Linked DNA regions of Homo sapiens. The protein of the gene in region 3 purifies or fractionates together with the protein of the main gene of each other region. This does not show direct contact. Each region holds a gene or a part of one and is shown on either strand. Other genes may lie near its edges.

Region 1 (3,443 bases), on a different chromosome or scaffold from region 3:
AAGGGAGTGAAGGAGTAAGCCCGAGAAGATTGACAGAAACAATGACAAATGAGTGTGGTCATTTAAAAAAATGAAATTGGTTTAAGAAGCAGTTTGTTTATAGTTAGTACTCGCTCTGCAGTATTCCAAGCATCAAAATATATTATTTTGATACTCTATTAGGTGGGTTTTATTAGTGTCATTTTATGCAAAAGGACACCACCAGGTTAGCAGTCTTCCCAACGTTACAATGCTGGTAAGCTTGTAAAAATTCTGCCTCCACAGTCAAAACTACTGACAAATACAAGACTCTTAACAAATTAATAGGTCAATGTGGTTTTGAAGTAGGAGGTGGGACCTGACTCTGGAGGCAGGTTTTAGACACCAGGCCAAATTGAGGGCTAGCTAAAATGGGGACCAGGGACAGGATGGAAGCAGTGTACCATGTCAGTTTACCATTGTGATGGCAACACCTTGGAGTTACCACCTCTTTCTGTGGCAATGACCTGATGACCCAAAAGTTATTCCCCGTTCCCTAGAAATTTCTGCGTAAACTGCCCCTTAATCTACATGTAATTAAAAGTAGGTATAAATATGACCCCCAAACTGCCCTGAGCTGTGCCTCTCAGCACAGTGCCTGGGGTAGCCCTTCTCTGCAGGAGGAATCATGGAGCTGTAATACTGCCACTTCAATAAAGCTGTTTTCTTCTACCCTACCTCCAGCTCACCCTTGAATACTTTCCTGGGTGAAGCCAAGAACCCTTGAAGGCTAAGCCCCACTTTGGAGCTTGCCTGCCTTGCATCAGTTTCATCTTCAATGTATTCATTTAATATATACATTCAATATATTTCCCAAGCTATTAAAATTTTTGGTTAGTATTGGGGTATAGTAATGTTGTGATGTATATGATAAAACTAGTATTTGATCATAGCATGATGAAACAGACAATTCTCTCCAATTCTTACAAAAGCTGGTAAAACAATCTGCCAAAATAGCTGCTTGGCATTTTGGCAAAATAACTGATTGACTTACAGCCATTTAGCACAATGTCTAAAGAGAAAAACAATTCATGCCATTCTTTAAAGAAGGCAAAACTTCCATGTGTCTCTTTAATTTTGCTCTCCATTTTTACTTGAACTTTTGATTTAAATCATCTTTCTCTGCTTCCTTTGTGTCAGTGGTCTGTCAATATTTTAGAACAGTATTTCACAAATCCACAATGAAAATGAAGAACTAAAAGGAAATCAATTATTTTCAGATAAACAAATAAATATATATTTTTTGAAATCCCATAGCACTTAGTTTATGTGCATTTTCCATTGTGGTAATTAATAAAGCAAGACACCAAACTATTTCTTGAAACAATGTCTTAAACATAAGAGTTAAATGAAAATCCTTAAAAAAATAAGTTATAAAATTTTTAAACATCCGATTGAGGAATTCTGGAGTTAGACTAAGGATCAGAAGAAGAAGCAACCCTGGCTTTACCGCTACCAGTGGGATCTTAGGGGAGCCGGCTAATCCCCTGGGAACAGGATGCTCCAACCACAAATTGGTAAGATGGATAGGAGCTCTCTTAGGACATTTTCAATCCTAACAGATCATAAATGAATGAAATACTTACACAATTCTGAATTCATAATCATCTCTGTTTCTTAGAAATACATTTATATGTTATTATTCAGCAATTGTTTACTTAAGGCCTACAACTCTACCTGGAAATTCAGAAGAATGAAGGATTTTCACTGTCAGCAAAAAACTGTGCAAATTTTTGTGGGGGCATAGGATAAGTGTGACATACTGGACCTACCCAAAAATAATTAGAGCCTGAGAGGAAAAGCAAAACAAACTAACAAAAATCAGTTCCATAATTGTTTAAGGCCATATATGGCTAACACTAATGTGACTTGTGAAGCTGAAAAAGCAGATGAGGAGATGAGAAGAAGAAAAGATCAGGAAGTAATTGGGAGTCACTTCCAGGAAAGAGTAAGACTTTGGCTGCAATTTAAACTGCAACTTAAATCCTGTAGTTGAGGCATCCTCAGAAACAAAGTCTAGAGGCAGCAATGAGTGTTTAAGGAGCTCCAAGGGCCAGTGGTAGCCAAGCACAGTCAACTGGATTACTGAGAACTCAGAAGTCAAGGTAAAGAATGAGACCTTCTCCTGAGGACAGTAGGAGGTCACTGACAGTTTTTAGTGTGGGAATAGCATAATAAGTGTACTGCATCACCTCTTTAATTTCACCTCCTTCCCTTGGCCCTCCACACTGCAGTCAGACCAGACTCTATTCTTCTCCTTAGGGTTACCTCTGGACCTTTGCATATTCTGTGCACTCTGTCTGGAAATCTCCCCCCAGGCATGCACCCTCCACCTGGCCAGCTCCAGCCTGTCTTCCCAATTACAATTTAATCATTTTTAAATCCAGTCAGATGCCTTTCCTGTGTACTCCCACATAGCACCTGTACTTCTCAATGAAAGCACTGACTACTACTCTATAGCAATTGCCAACATGACTGAATCCCTCCTCTATAGGCTCTATGGTGGCAGGATTTACCATTTTTATCTTTATCTCCACATATAGTTTCTGGAATATGGTGTGTGGTGGATAAATATTTGTTGACTAAGTGAATGAACTTAATAGAACTTAATGAATGAATGAATTCAATGAATAAATGACTTAATAAACTAAATTACAATGAATAAATGATTCAATTAAATAATTTATTCATTGTAAAATATACAGAGGGAGGCAGGAGCCTGTGAAACAATTAAAAGCATGAGTTAAAATGGTAGACGTGACTTAGATAATCAAGGAGGGATGAAGCAGAGACCAAAAAAACTTGACAATGGATTGGCTTTGAATGGTGAAAGAGAAGAAAGAGTGAAAATAATTTTATGATTCTTCCCTCCTCCACTGCCTGTATTCTTTATAGCTCACACCATTTACTAAGCTCAGGGTCAAGCCTTGTTTTCTTTTTGTCCACAGTGGGCATAGACTCACAATTATTTCAATGCTGATATTTCCTATTTTGAAAGCTTCTGCCTCCTTTCATATTCTATCCTCAAGCAATATCCAAAATCAAATATTTAAGTACTAAACATATGTCTTCTATTAGTAGGCCTCAATTATTTCTTCTCAGTTAAAACACCACTGAGCTAATCAGGAATAAATTCACATCCACCAAAGTAACTGCAGTTGGACAAATTGTAAAGGGGTGAGGGCTAACTAAGTTCATGGATGGAAAAAGATAGATCAGAGTTTTCTAACTGGAAAGAAGTAAATAAAATATTTTCTTGGATTTACCTTTGGTTTGAGTCTTGACCCAGGAATTAATCTTTTTTCTAGCTTCTTCTGCACATTCTAGGAAGTCTACTGCCTGGGGTTCTGAGGAGTAATATTTCTGACAGAGTCGAATATATTCCTTTAAAGCAAGAAAATGACAAAGGCTACATAAAATACATA
Region 2 (3,601 bases), on a different chromosome or scaffold from region 3:
CCACAGGTTGGCCAGGAGGCTGGATGCTGCCCGGGAGGACTTCTCACTGTCGGGGCTGAGGGTGGAGGGCAGTCAGGAGGGGACACACAGCCAGAAAGCAGGGTGGACTGGGAGGACCCCTGACCAGGCTGCTGCACGGCTGGGTCGGCCCCTACCTGTCCCGCTTCTTCTTGATGAAGATGAGCTTTCGGAGTCCGTCAAAATACAGCAGGTCTCGGGCAGCGATGGGGCTGGCCACCACCAGGTTGTTGAGCACAGCTATGATGTTGACCAGCACCTCGGCTGGGGGCGACTTCTCACCCACGCTGCCCGGCAGCTTCTCGATCAGGTGGCTCACCACCTTCGTGGCTGTGGGAGGCCGGGGGTCAGTCTGCACCCCTACTCCTGGCCACCTGGGCACCTGGGGTCCCCTGCCTCCCCCAGGGAGCTGGACTGGCCCCAGTGGTCTGAAGCCCACACTTAAAGACAAAATTGACATGTGGGTCCAGCAGGGCAGGGACGAGGGGCTGCCCGACTCACACATCTCGTCCTTGTTCCTAGCGTTCCGAGACAGGTTTCGGATGAGGCCAGTCAGTGAGCGCAGCTGGTGGTGGTCGGCGGTCCTGACACGGTCTAGCAGGGGGTTCAGAATACGCTCCTGCTCCAGGGCCAGGCGGCTCAGCACCCCCGCCCACTGTGGGGAGGGAGGGTGTGAGCCGTGACCCGGAGGCCTCAGACCCTCACCTGAGGGGGTCCTGCCACAATGGGGTCGCTGCATCCTCTCGCCACCCTCAGGGGGGCCTCTGCTTCTGCCTTTGCCCCCCAGCCGGGGGGAATCAGCCGCAGCCCGGATCAGGTGCCTCCCTTCAAACCCAGGGCAGGACTTCCATCCTCCCAAGGCCCAAGGCCTGCGCCACCGGGACGCTGACCTCCGAGGCTCCGCGGACCCTGGGCGTCCCCTTCCTCCTCCCCTCCCTCTCCCTCCTCTGTCCCCCCCTCAACCGCATGAACCCCTGGGACCCCCTCGGGTCTGGGTTGGGTGCCCCACCCTGCGGTCGCCTGCCGTGATGTTCTGCAGCGCCCCGGCGGCCGCCTCCGTCGTGTGCCGGTTGAGCTCGCAGCGCTGCAGCAGCCGGTTGTACAGCCCCACGATCTGGGGGCTCCACAGCCACTCGAGGCCCTTGGGGTCCTTGGACACCTCCGCGAAGGTGAGCGCATCGGCGGCGAGGGGCAGCTGCGCAGGGCGGGGAGGAGTCGGCGGGGTCGGGGTGAGCGGGTCGGGGTGAGCGGGTCGGGGTGAGCGGGTCGGGTGTGAGTGGGGCGGGGGTGAGCGGGGTCCGGGGTGAGCGGGGCGGGGGTGAGCGGGGCCGGGGGTCGGGGGTGAGCGGGGTCCGGGGTGAGCGGGGCGGGGGTGAGCGGGGTCCGGGGTGAGCGGGGTCGGGGTGAGCGGGTCCCGGGGTGAGCGGGGCGGGGGTGAGCGGGGCGGGGGTGAGCGGGGCCGGGGGTGAGCGGGGCCGGGGGTCGGGGGTGAGCGGGGTCGGGGTGAGCGGGGCCGGGGGTGAGCGGGGCCCGGGGTGAGCGGGGCAGGGGTGAGCGGGGCGGGGGTGAGCGGGGTCGGGGTGAGCGGGTCGGGGGTGAGCGGGGCCGGGGGTCGGGGGTGAGCGGGGTCGGGGTGAGCGGGTCGGGGGTGAGCGGGGCCGGGGGTCGGGGGTGAGCGGGGTCGGGGTGAGCGGGGCCGGGGGTGAGCGGGGCCGGGGGTCGGGGGTGAGCGGGGTCGGGGTGAGCGGGGCCGGGGTCAGTGGAGCCGGGGGTGAGCGGGGCCGGGGGTCGGGGGTGAGCGGGGTCCGGGGTGAGCGGGGCCGGGGTCAGTGGAGCCGGGGGTGAGCGGGGCCGGGGGTCGGGGGTGAGCGGGGTCCGGGGTGAGCGGGGCCGGGGTCAGTGGAGCCGGGGGTGAGCGGGGCCGGGGGTCGGGGGTGAGCGGGGCCGGGGGTCGGGGGTGAGCGGGGTCCGGGGTGAGCGGGGCCGGGGTCAGTGGAGCCGGGGGTGAGCGGGGCCGGGGGTCGGGGGTGAGCGGGGTCCGGGGTGAGCGGGGCCGGGGTCAGTGGAGCCGGGGGTGAGCGGGGCCGGGGGTCTGGGGTGAGCGGGGTCGGGGTGAGCGGGGCCGGGGTCAGTGGAGCCGGGGGTGAGCGGGGCCGGGGGTCGGGGGTGAGCGGGGTCCGGGGTGAGCGGGGCCGGGGTCAGTGGAGCCGGGGGTGAGCGGGGCCGGGGGTCGGGGGTGAGCGGGGTCCGGGGTGAGCGGGGCCGGGGTCAGTGGAGCCGGGGGTGAGCGGGGCCGGGGGTCGGGGGTGAGCGGGGCCGGGGGTCGGGGGTGAGCGGGGTCCGGGGTGAGCGGGGCCGGGGTCAGTGGAGCCGGGGGTGAGCGGGGCCGGGGGTCGGGGGTGAGCGGGGTCCGGGGTGAGCGGGGCCGGGGTCAGTGGAGCCGGGGGTGAGCGGGGCCGGGGGTCGGGGGTGAGCGGGGCCGGGGGTCGGGGGTGAGCGGGGCGGGGGTGAGCGGGGCGGGGGTGAGCGGGGTCGGGGGTGAGCGGGGTCGGGGGTGAGCGGGGCCGGGGGTGAGCGGGGCCGGGGGTGAGCGGGGCGGGGGTGAGCGGGGCGGGTGTGAGCGGGGCCGGGTGTGAGCGGGGCCGGGTGTGAGCGGGGCCGGGTGTGAGCGGGGCGGGTGTGAGCGGGGCCGGGTGTGAGCGGGGCCGGGGGTGAGCGGGCCGGGGGTGAGCGGGGCGGGTGTGAGCGGGGCGGGTGTGAACGGGGCCGGGGGTGAGCGGGGCCGGGGGTGAGCGGGGCGGGTGTGAGCGGGGCGGGTGTGAGCGGGGCGGGTGTGAGCGGGCCGGGTGTGAGCGGGGCCGGGTGTGAGCGGGGCGGGTGTGAGCGGGGCCGGGGGTGAGCGGGGCGGGTGTGAGCGGGGCCGGGTGTGAGCGGGGCCGGGTGTGAGCGGGCCGGGGGTGAGCGGGGCGGGTGTGAGCGGGCCGGGGGTGAGCGGGGCGGGTGTGAGCGGGGCGGGTGTGAACGGGGCCGGGTGTGAGCGGGGCCGGGGGTGAGCGGGGCGGGTGTGAGCGGGCCGGGTGTGAGCGGGGCCGGGTGTGAGCGGGGCCGGGTGTGAGCGGGGCAGGTGTGAGCGGGGCCGGGGGTGAGCGGGGCGGGTGTGAGCGGGGCCGGGTGTGAGCGGGGCCGGGTGTGAGCGGGCCGGGGGTGAGCGGGGCGGGGGTGAGCGGGGCCGGGTGTGAGCGGGGCGGGTGTGAGCGGGGTCCGGGGTGAGCGGGGTCCGGGGTGAGCGGGGCGGGGGTGAGCGGGGCGGGTGTGAGCGGGGCCGGGGGTGAGCGGGGCGGGGGTGAGCGGGGTCCGGGGTGAGCGGGGCGGGGGTGAGCGGGGCGGGGGTGAGCGGGGCGGGTGTGAGCGGGGTCGGGGGTGAGCGGGGCGGGGGTGAGCGGGGTCCGGGGTGAGCGGGGCGGGGTGAGCGGGGCGGGGGTGAGCGGGGCGGGGGTGAGCGGGGCCGGGGTCAGCGGGGCCGGGGTCGCAGCACCCACCCCACGCCCCGCTCAGGCTGGTGCCCACCTCGCGCAGCCGCCGG
Region 3 (2,824 bases):
TCGGGGTGAGCCGAGTAGACTCGTGGAGGAAGAGTCATCCAGCTGGACAAGGTGGCAGGGCACAGACCAGCACGGTGGCTGGAGCAGAGTATGGCAGTAGAAGGAAGAGGATGAGGGCTGAGAGGTCTCAGGATTTCTTGGCCACCGCCAGGTGAAATGGGAGCTGTTGGGGGATTTTGATCAGAGGGATGTAATCTGATTTTTGTGTTACAGGGCCTTGGGCTGCCATGTGCAGAACATGGGGGTGGGGGACGGCAGGGGAGAAAGCCGAGATTGCATAGGAGACAGTAGCTGTCATCTCTGCCAGGAATGGGTGACTTTGCTGGGGTCTAAAAATGGGCAGCTAGTAGAGGAGGTGCTGGGAAAGGAGGCTGAGAAGGTTGGAGGAAGCCAAGAGGGGCAGTGATGTTGGGAAGAGAGGGTGTTGAAAGTGGTGCCAGCCATGGCGGACACTGCATGCTTTGTCTGATGAAGGATACACCTGCAGGGGTGTTATAGGATCTCAGCCTGTGTGTCATGGGTGCTGGCCTTGAGGCCTGGGAGTCTGACTGGGCTGCTGGGGCCTGGATGGTATGCACCCTCATGGGCATGGAACCCAGCCTTATGAAGGGGGCCCAGGGGTTTGGGTGTGGCACCAGCTTGGGATCACTGTCACAGTGAAGTTCCCTTCTGCGGCTCTCAGCTCAGGCCCACTTTGCCCAGAAGACATGTTTCTACCCAACCAGCTGTGTTTTCAAAGCCGCTGAGCTTCTCCAAAGACAGTTCTTAGCACAGCATGATGGAGAGGAGGCTAGGGTGCTGTGGGGAGCCTCTGTCTCATATCACCTTCCATCAGGAAGCCCCTTTCTATTCTGTATCTGGAGCTCCTTCAGTTCCTTCCTGTCTGCAGCTCCCTCTGCTTTTCTCTCTGTGGCGTGGTCTGTTGGCCACCAGGTGTCGCTCTCACAGCCAGGATCAGTGCTTAGGGACTTTGAGGTGTGGTTTGGCCAGAGGAGGGTGCTGTTGGCTCAGCTTTTTCTGGGAAAATGGGTCACCTGGCCACCTCTTTGGGGTCCTCAGAGTCACTGGCACTCTTGGGCTCAGGTGAGGCCTGATTCTGGATAACAGGAGACTCCCTGCTGTCCAGGTAATGAGAAGCAGGCCCAAACATCAAAGCAAGATGGAAAAGGGAAAGATGAGAGAAACCTAACCTGTTGAGCAATGGCAGGTTGGAGAGGAAAGAGAAAGCTTATGGAAGTCGTGAAGTGTGAGACTGAGAGTTGGTAGCCTGGAAAGTCTGGGGGCGGAGTTGTATGGCGTGAACCTAAGAAAAGTCCTCTGTGGCAAAAACAGTTTTGTTTTGTTTTTTTTTGCCCCTGGAATTATCTTAGAGGAGAGCTGAGAGTTTTCTGTCTTGGGTCACAAATGGCCTGTGTCCTTAGGTCCTTGCACAGAATTGAAACTCTGCTTCCCTTGTGCTGAGGCAGTCCTTGGAGAGTCTGGGGAGTTGGTTTTGAGGCTGTTTTACAGAAATGATCCTGGATCTTAGTCTTCCTGAATTCCCCTGAGTTCCACAACATTGCAGGGAGTATTTATGCGTCTTTGTGGGGCTTTGTCAGCATGTGTACAAGTCTGGTTTAAAAACTGTCTTTGACATCAGAAACCTGGGCACCAGGATTCTCATTCAAGTCACAGCAGAGAGACCTGGAGGATGTAGGGAAGTGGGTAGCAGGGAAGGGTCCGCTTTGTGTGGCATGGTGGCGGGCACTGGAAGGTATGGCATCCTAGAGGCTCGTCCCCAACTGTGTTCCATTGTCCAAGAGCACCCAGAGGAGAGCCTGACCATCCTCTTGCCACAGGGGCCACAGTCTCTGGGCCCAACAGGGTGGTGCTCAGTTTAGATGATTTGAGTGGGGATTAGTCTGTTCAGAACTGTCCCTAGGCCTCAAAACTGACTTATGTCCAGCCTTTCTCAGCTGTGAGCTGACCTGTCTGGCGTCCCCCTCACAGATCTCAGGATGATGGGGCGCAGCCCTGGGTTTGCCATGCAGCACATCGTGGGTGTGCCCCACGTACTGGTTCGGAGGGGCCTCCTTGGAAGGGACCTCTTCATGACCAGGACTCTCTGCAGCCCAGGCCCAAGCCAGCCCGGAGAGAAAAGACCTGAGGAGGTGGCCCTGGGGCTGCACCACCGCCTCCCAGCACTGGGAAGAGCCCTGGGGCACAGCATTCAGCAACGAGCGACCTCCACAGCCAAGACTTGGTGGGACAGATATGAAGAGTTTGTTGGACTCAACGAGGTTCGAGAGGCCCAGGGAAAGGTGACAGAGGTGAGGAGGGGAGCTGGGGTGGCTGGCCCCGCCCTCTGACTTGGGAAATGTGCCAAACCAGTCACGTGGTGCTGGGTAGCCACATCCAGACTTGTGTTTAGCCTCATTTCTCACGTGGAAACCTGGGCTTGATGCTTCTGGGGTGAAGGTCTCCATGTAACTGTGCCACCTACTTTCCCCGAAAACAGTTACTGTGTACCAGTAAGTCCCTGGCCACTAACATCCACTCTGTGAGGCCAGCAAATACTTCCTTTGTGGACCATTTGGGGATTGATGGTGAGAGTTACGTGGGGCTTGCTGCGGTACTGTTACTGTGTGTAATTACAACATCTTTTGTGAAGATAGAGGGCACTAGGAAATGTCACAGTGTGAGGTGGAAAGAGCTGGTGGTGGTTGTCAAGTCCTTTGTGGTGGCAGAAATGCATTCTGTCATCTCTGTTCCCACTCCTGCTTAGGCATGTAGTAGTGTAGCGTGGTGGGAAGAACCTGGGGTTCAGCTGGGACTTTGAGACAAA
Region 4 (3,601 bases), on a different chromosome or scaffold from region 3:
CGGCCCATCTGGGCTTAGCCTTTCTGTAAGTAGCACTGAAACACCTTCTTAGGCAGATCCACACCCCCCCGCGTGTGTGGCAGACGCTGGCTGGTGGTGTGGAGCGCCGCGAGGCAGGTGATGAGAACACAGCCACGATTTAGTCACCGCAGAGAAGCAGTGTGTGGACTTGAGCTAGAAATCCGGACACCTTCCATCTTTTCCTAGTTTCACTTCTCAAGTTGAAATCTCTCACCCTTTCTGAACCATGTATTTTCCAATCTGTCAAGGGGGTCAGGAGTGTTTGTCAGAGAAGCATCTATAGCATCTGTGCCCTCTACGTGCCCTCTGGCGGAAGTTGTTTTCCTGAAACTTTGGACCAGCTTTGGCATTTTAAGCAGGTTTGTTGGCAAAGAGATGGACTGGCAGCAGCAGGGAGGGAGCAATGTGTCTGTCTCACTTGGATTCTGCCCCGAGGGCTCACAATCTGTTTTCCCTGCAGCACCAAGTACCCTAGCGCCACTCAGCAAATGCGAGTTAACGGAATCAGCCCGGCTTCTACAGGGAACCTGGGCTCCTTTGCCTCAGGAAGGCAAGTGGCTTCCCAGACAGCGTAATTTGGGAGGATGCATCGCTCTGCCACCCAGGCTGGAGTGCAATGGCGCGATCTCAGCTCACTGCAGCCTCTTCCTCCCGGGTTCAAGCGATTCTCTTGGCTCAGCCTCCCTACTAGCTGGGATTATAGGCATGCACCACTGCACCTGGCTAATTTTTGTATTTTTAGTAGAGACGGGGTTTCACCATGTTGCCCAGGCTGGTCTCAGGTGATCTGCCCGCCTCGGCCTCCCAAAGTGCTGGGATTATAGGCGTAAGCCACCGTGTCTATGGCCAAGCCTCTCTGAATTAGACAACAACTAGATAACCTACTTGGAAATTTGATTAGCATCTTCCAGATTTTCCACAATGAGGAGCGTCATCCCCAGCAGCTTGAAGGCCTAATTTTGTGTTTATTACCACAGTGACTTTGCTTTTTAAACCAGTAGGATTCTGCCAGGGAAGACTTGGAAGTGGCAGGAGACCCTGCTCTGCTGTAGGAAAGGATGTTCTCAGAGTTTCTGCCCTGTTCATAGTTTACATCCAATGCACACACACGCAGTTTCCTTATGTGACTGCGTCCTTGTTCCTCCTCATGCTGTGATTTCACCTGTGGACTGCTCTGTGTACTCCCATAGCATTAACCAGTCATGGGATGTGGGCTCCCAAAGCGAGGCCTAGCCTCGAGTGAGGAGGCAGCTCCCTTCAGAGAAGGGCAGTGTCCAGGAGGGACTTGTGGTCTGTTAGCACCAGTACACCTGGTGCCTCAGTCTTCCAGGGGGAATGCAGACAGAGCCACAGCACTCACCTCTGCAGCAGTTCTCAGACGTGCCCCCGACCCGCAGCCTCACCTCAGAAAGGCAACTCTTCCAGCCCCACTCTGGAGGGACGGAATCAGAAGCTGGGGAAAGGTCCAGCAGTCTGTGCGCACAGCCCTCTGGGGGATTCTGAGGCATGCTCAGGTTTGAGAGCCCCTGCATTATAATGATAGAAATAGTTGTAAATGGAGCCAGGCACAGTGGCTCATGCCTGTAATCCCAGCACCTTGGGAGGCCAAGGTGGGTGGATCACTTGAGGTCAGGAGTTTGAGACCAGCCTGGCCAATGTGGCAAAACTCCGTCTCTACTTAAAGTACAAAAAATAGCAACGTGTGGTGGTGCACGCCTGTAATCCCAGCTACTCAGGAGGCTGAGGCAGGAGAATCTCTTGAACCTGGGAGGTGGAGGTTGCAGTGAGCTGAGATTGCGCCACTGCACTCCAGCCTGGGTGACAGAGCCAGACTCCATCTCAATATATATATATATATATGTATGTATAAATAAATATATATGTATATTTATAAACTTTTTTTTTCAAAAACCATTTTAAAATGTTAAACATACGTGTCATAGGACCCAGCCCTTCACTCCTGGGTATTGAACTGAGAGAGGAAGGCATATGTACGCACAAAGACCTGTACGTGGATGCTCATAGCAGCTGTACTCACAATACCTTTAAACTAGAGACAACCCAGGTTCATCAGTAGGTGAATGGATAAACAGAGTGTGGTGTATCTACACAGCAGAGTACTTAAGAAGTGAGCTGTTGATAACCCAGCGTCATGGGTGAATGTCTAAGTTATGCAGAGTGAAAGAAGCCAGACCAAAAAAAAAAAAAACCCATATATATATATATATATATATATACACACACACACACACACACACACACACACACACACACACTCTATATATATATGTACTATGTATATGTGTACTATATATGTATATATACACTATATATACACACTATATACACACTATATATATATATATATATATATATATATATATATATATATATATATATATATAGTGTGTGTGTGTGTGTGTGTGTGTGTGTTTAGTTTTTGAGACAGAGTCTTGCTCTGTTGCCCAGGCTGGAGTGCAGTGGTGCAATTTCGGCTCCACTGCAACCTCCACCTCCTCCTGGGTTCTAGTGATTCTCCTGCCTCAGCCACCCAAGTAGCTGGGATTACAGGTGTGTGCCATCATGCCCGGATAATTTTGGTATTTTTAGTAGAGACCTGGGTTTCTCCACATTGGCAAGGCTGGTCTCGAACTCCTGGCCTCAAGTGATCCACCCGCCTCGGCCTCCCAAAGTGTTGGGATTACAGGCGTGATCCACCACGCTTGGCCTATATATATTTATATGCTATAAATATATAAAAGTCCATTGATAGAAAAGTCTAGAGTGCAAACCATAGTGATAAGAAAGATCAGTGGTTGCCTGGGAATGGGGTAAAGAGCAAGAAAGGGTTGGATTATTAAAAAAAATGAGGAAATTTTGAGGGGGATGATGGATGTGTTTATTATTATGATGTACTGGTGTCTCCATTGTGTACATATGTCAGAACTCATCAGGTAATGTACCTGATCAAGTTGTATAGCAGTTTATATGTCAAGAACACCTCAACAGAGCTGTAAAAAAAACACGACAGGTCTGACAGTTACCTGGGAAAGGTGGGGGAACAGGTGGTAGAAGAACACATTTTTTATGATGTTCATGGTACTTACATAACATAAATGAATAAAATAGGGCCAACATGGAAAAGAAAACAAAATGAAGGAAAATGTCAAATTGCCATCCTGAACACCAGCACCGCCTGTAATTAGCGTTCCTGGCTGCAGCCACATCTGCGGTCCTGCTCCTCATGAAGCCGTCCTCCGTGCCATGTCCCGGCCATGCCTGTCCTTAGCTTCCTGGTGCACACTGTCCTCCACCTTGTGTTCAGGCACAGGGCTGCTTGGCTCACCCTTGCTGCACCTGGCCTGTCCGTCCTCCCACCGCGGTGCCGCCCAGGCCTTCCCACTGCAGGGCTGGCTAACGGTGCATGGAAGAGACTCGAGTCCGTGTTGTGTCCTCATAGCCCACCGAGGAGGCAGCAGTGCCGGACATTTCGCGGATAGGTTGTGGTCTCTGAGTCTCCTCCTCTCAAGAGGATGAGATTTGTCTGTGTTATTGTCAAAACTCTTATTTGTCACGCCGC

Evidence for each region. Proteins that work in one complex are often made in the same cells at the same time.
Region 1: the proteins of CCDC51 (region 3) and SERPINB2 purify together in Homo sapiens (affinity purification with mass spectrometry; 3 studies listed by BioGRID and IntAct, with this or other methods). This does not show direct contact.
Region 2: the proteins of CCDC51 (region 3) and PKP3 purify together in Homo sapiens (affinity purification with mass spectrometry; 3 studies listed by BioGRID and IntAct, with this or other methods). This does not show direct contact.
Region 4: the proteins of CCDC51 (region 3) and DUSP14 purify together in Homo sapiens (affinity purification with mass spectrometry; 3 studies listed by BioGRID and IntAct, with this or other methods). This does not show direct contact.

The regions. Positions count from the first base shown.
Region 1 is NC_000018.10:63,897,686-63,901,128, reverse strand, and holds part of SERPINB2 (plasminogen activator inhibitor 2), read right to left. Parts: intron 3,403-3,443; coding exon 3,285-3,402; intron 1-3,284. UniProt on the Homo sapiens protein: Inhibits urokinase-type plasminogen activator. The monocyte derived PAI-2 is distinct from the endothelial cell-derived PAI-1.
Region 2 is NC_000011.10:400,690-404,290, reverse strand, and holds part of PKP3 (plakophilin-3), read right to left. Parts: coding exon 3,586-3,601; intron 1,214-3,585; coding exon 1,028-1,213; intron 674-1,027; coding exon 520-673; intron 349-519; coding exon 156-348; intron 56-155; coding exon 1-55. UniProt on the Homo sapiens protein: A component of desmosome cell-cell junctions which are required for positive regulation of cellular adhesion. Required for the localization of DSG2, DSP and PKP2 to mature desmosome junctions.
Region 3 is NC_000003.12:48,434,302-48,437,125, reverse strand, and holds part of CCDC51 (mitochondrial potassium channel), read left to right. Parts: intron 1-1,989; 5' UTR 1,990-1,997; coding exon 1,998-2,309; intron 2,310-2,824.
Region 4 is NC_000017.11:37,506,872-37,510,472, forward strand, and holds part of DUSP14 (dual specificity protein phosphatase 14), read left to right. Parts: intron 1-3,601. UniProt on the Homo sapiens protein: Involved in the inactivation of MAP kinases. Dephosphorylates ERK, JNK and p38 MAP-kinases. Plays a negative role in TCR signaling by dephosphorylating MAP3K7 adapter TAB1 leading to its inactivation.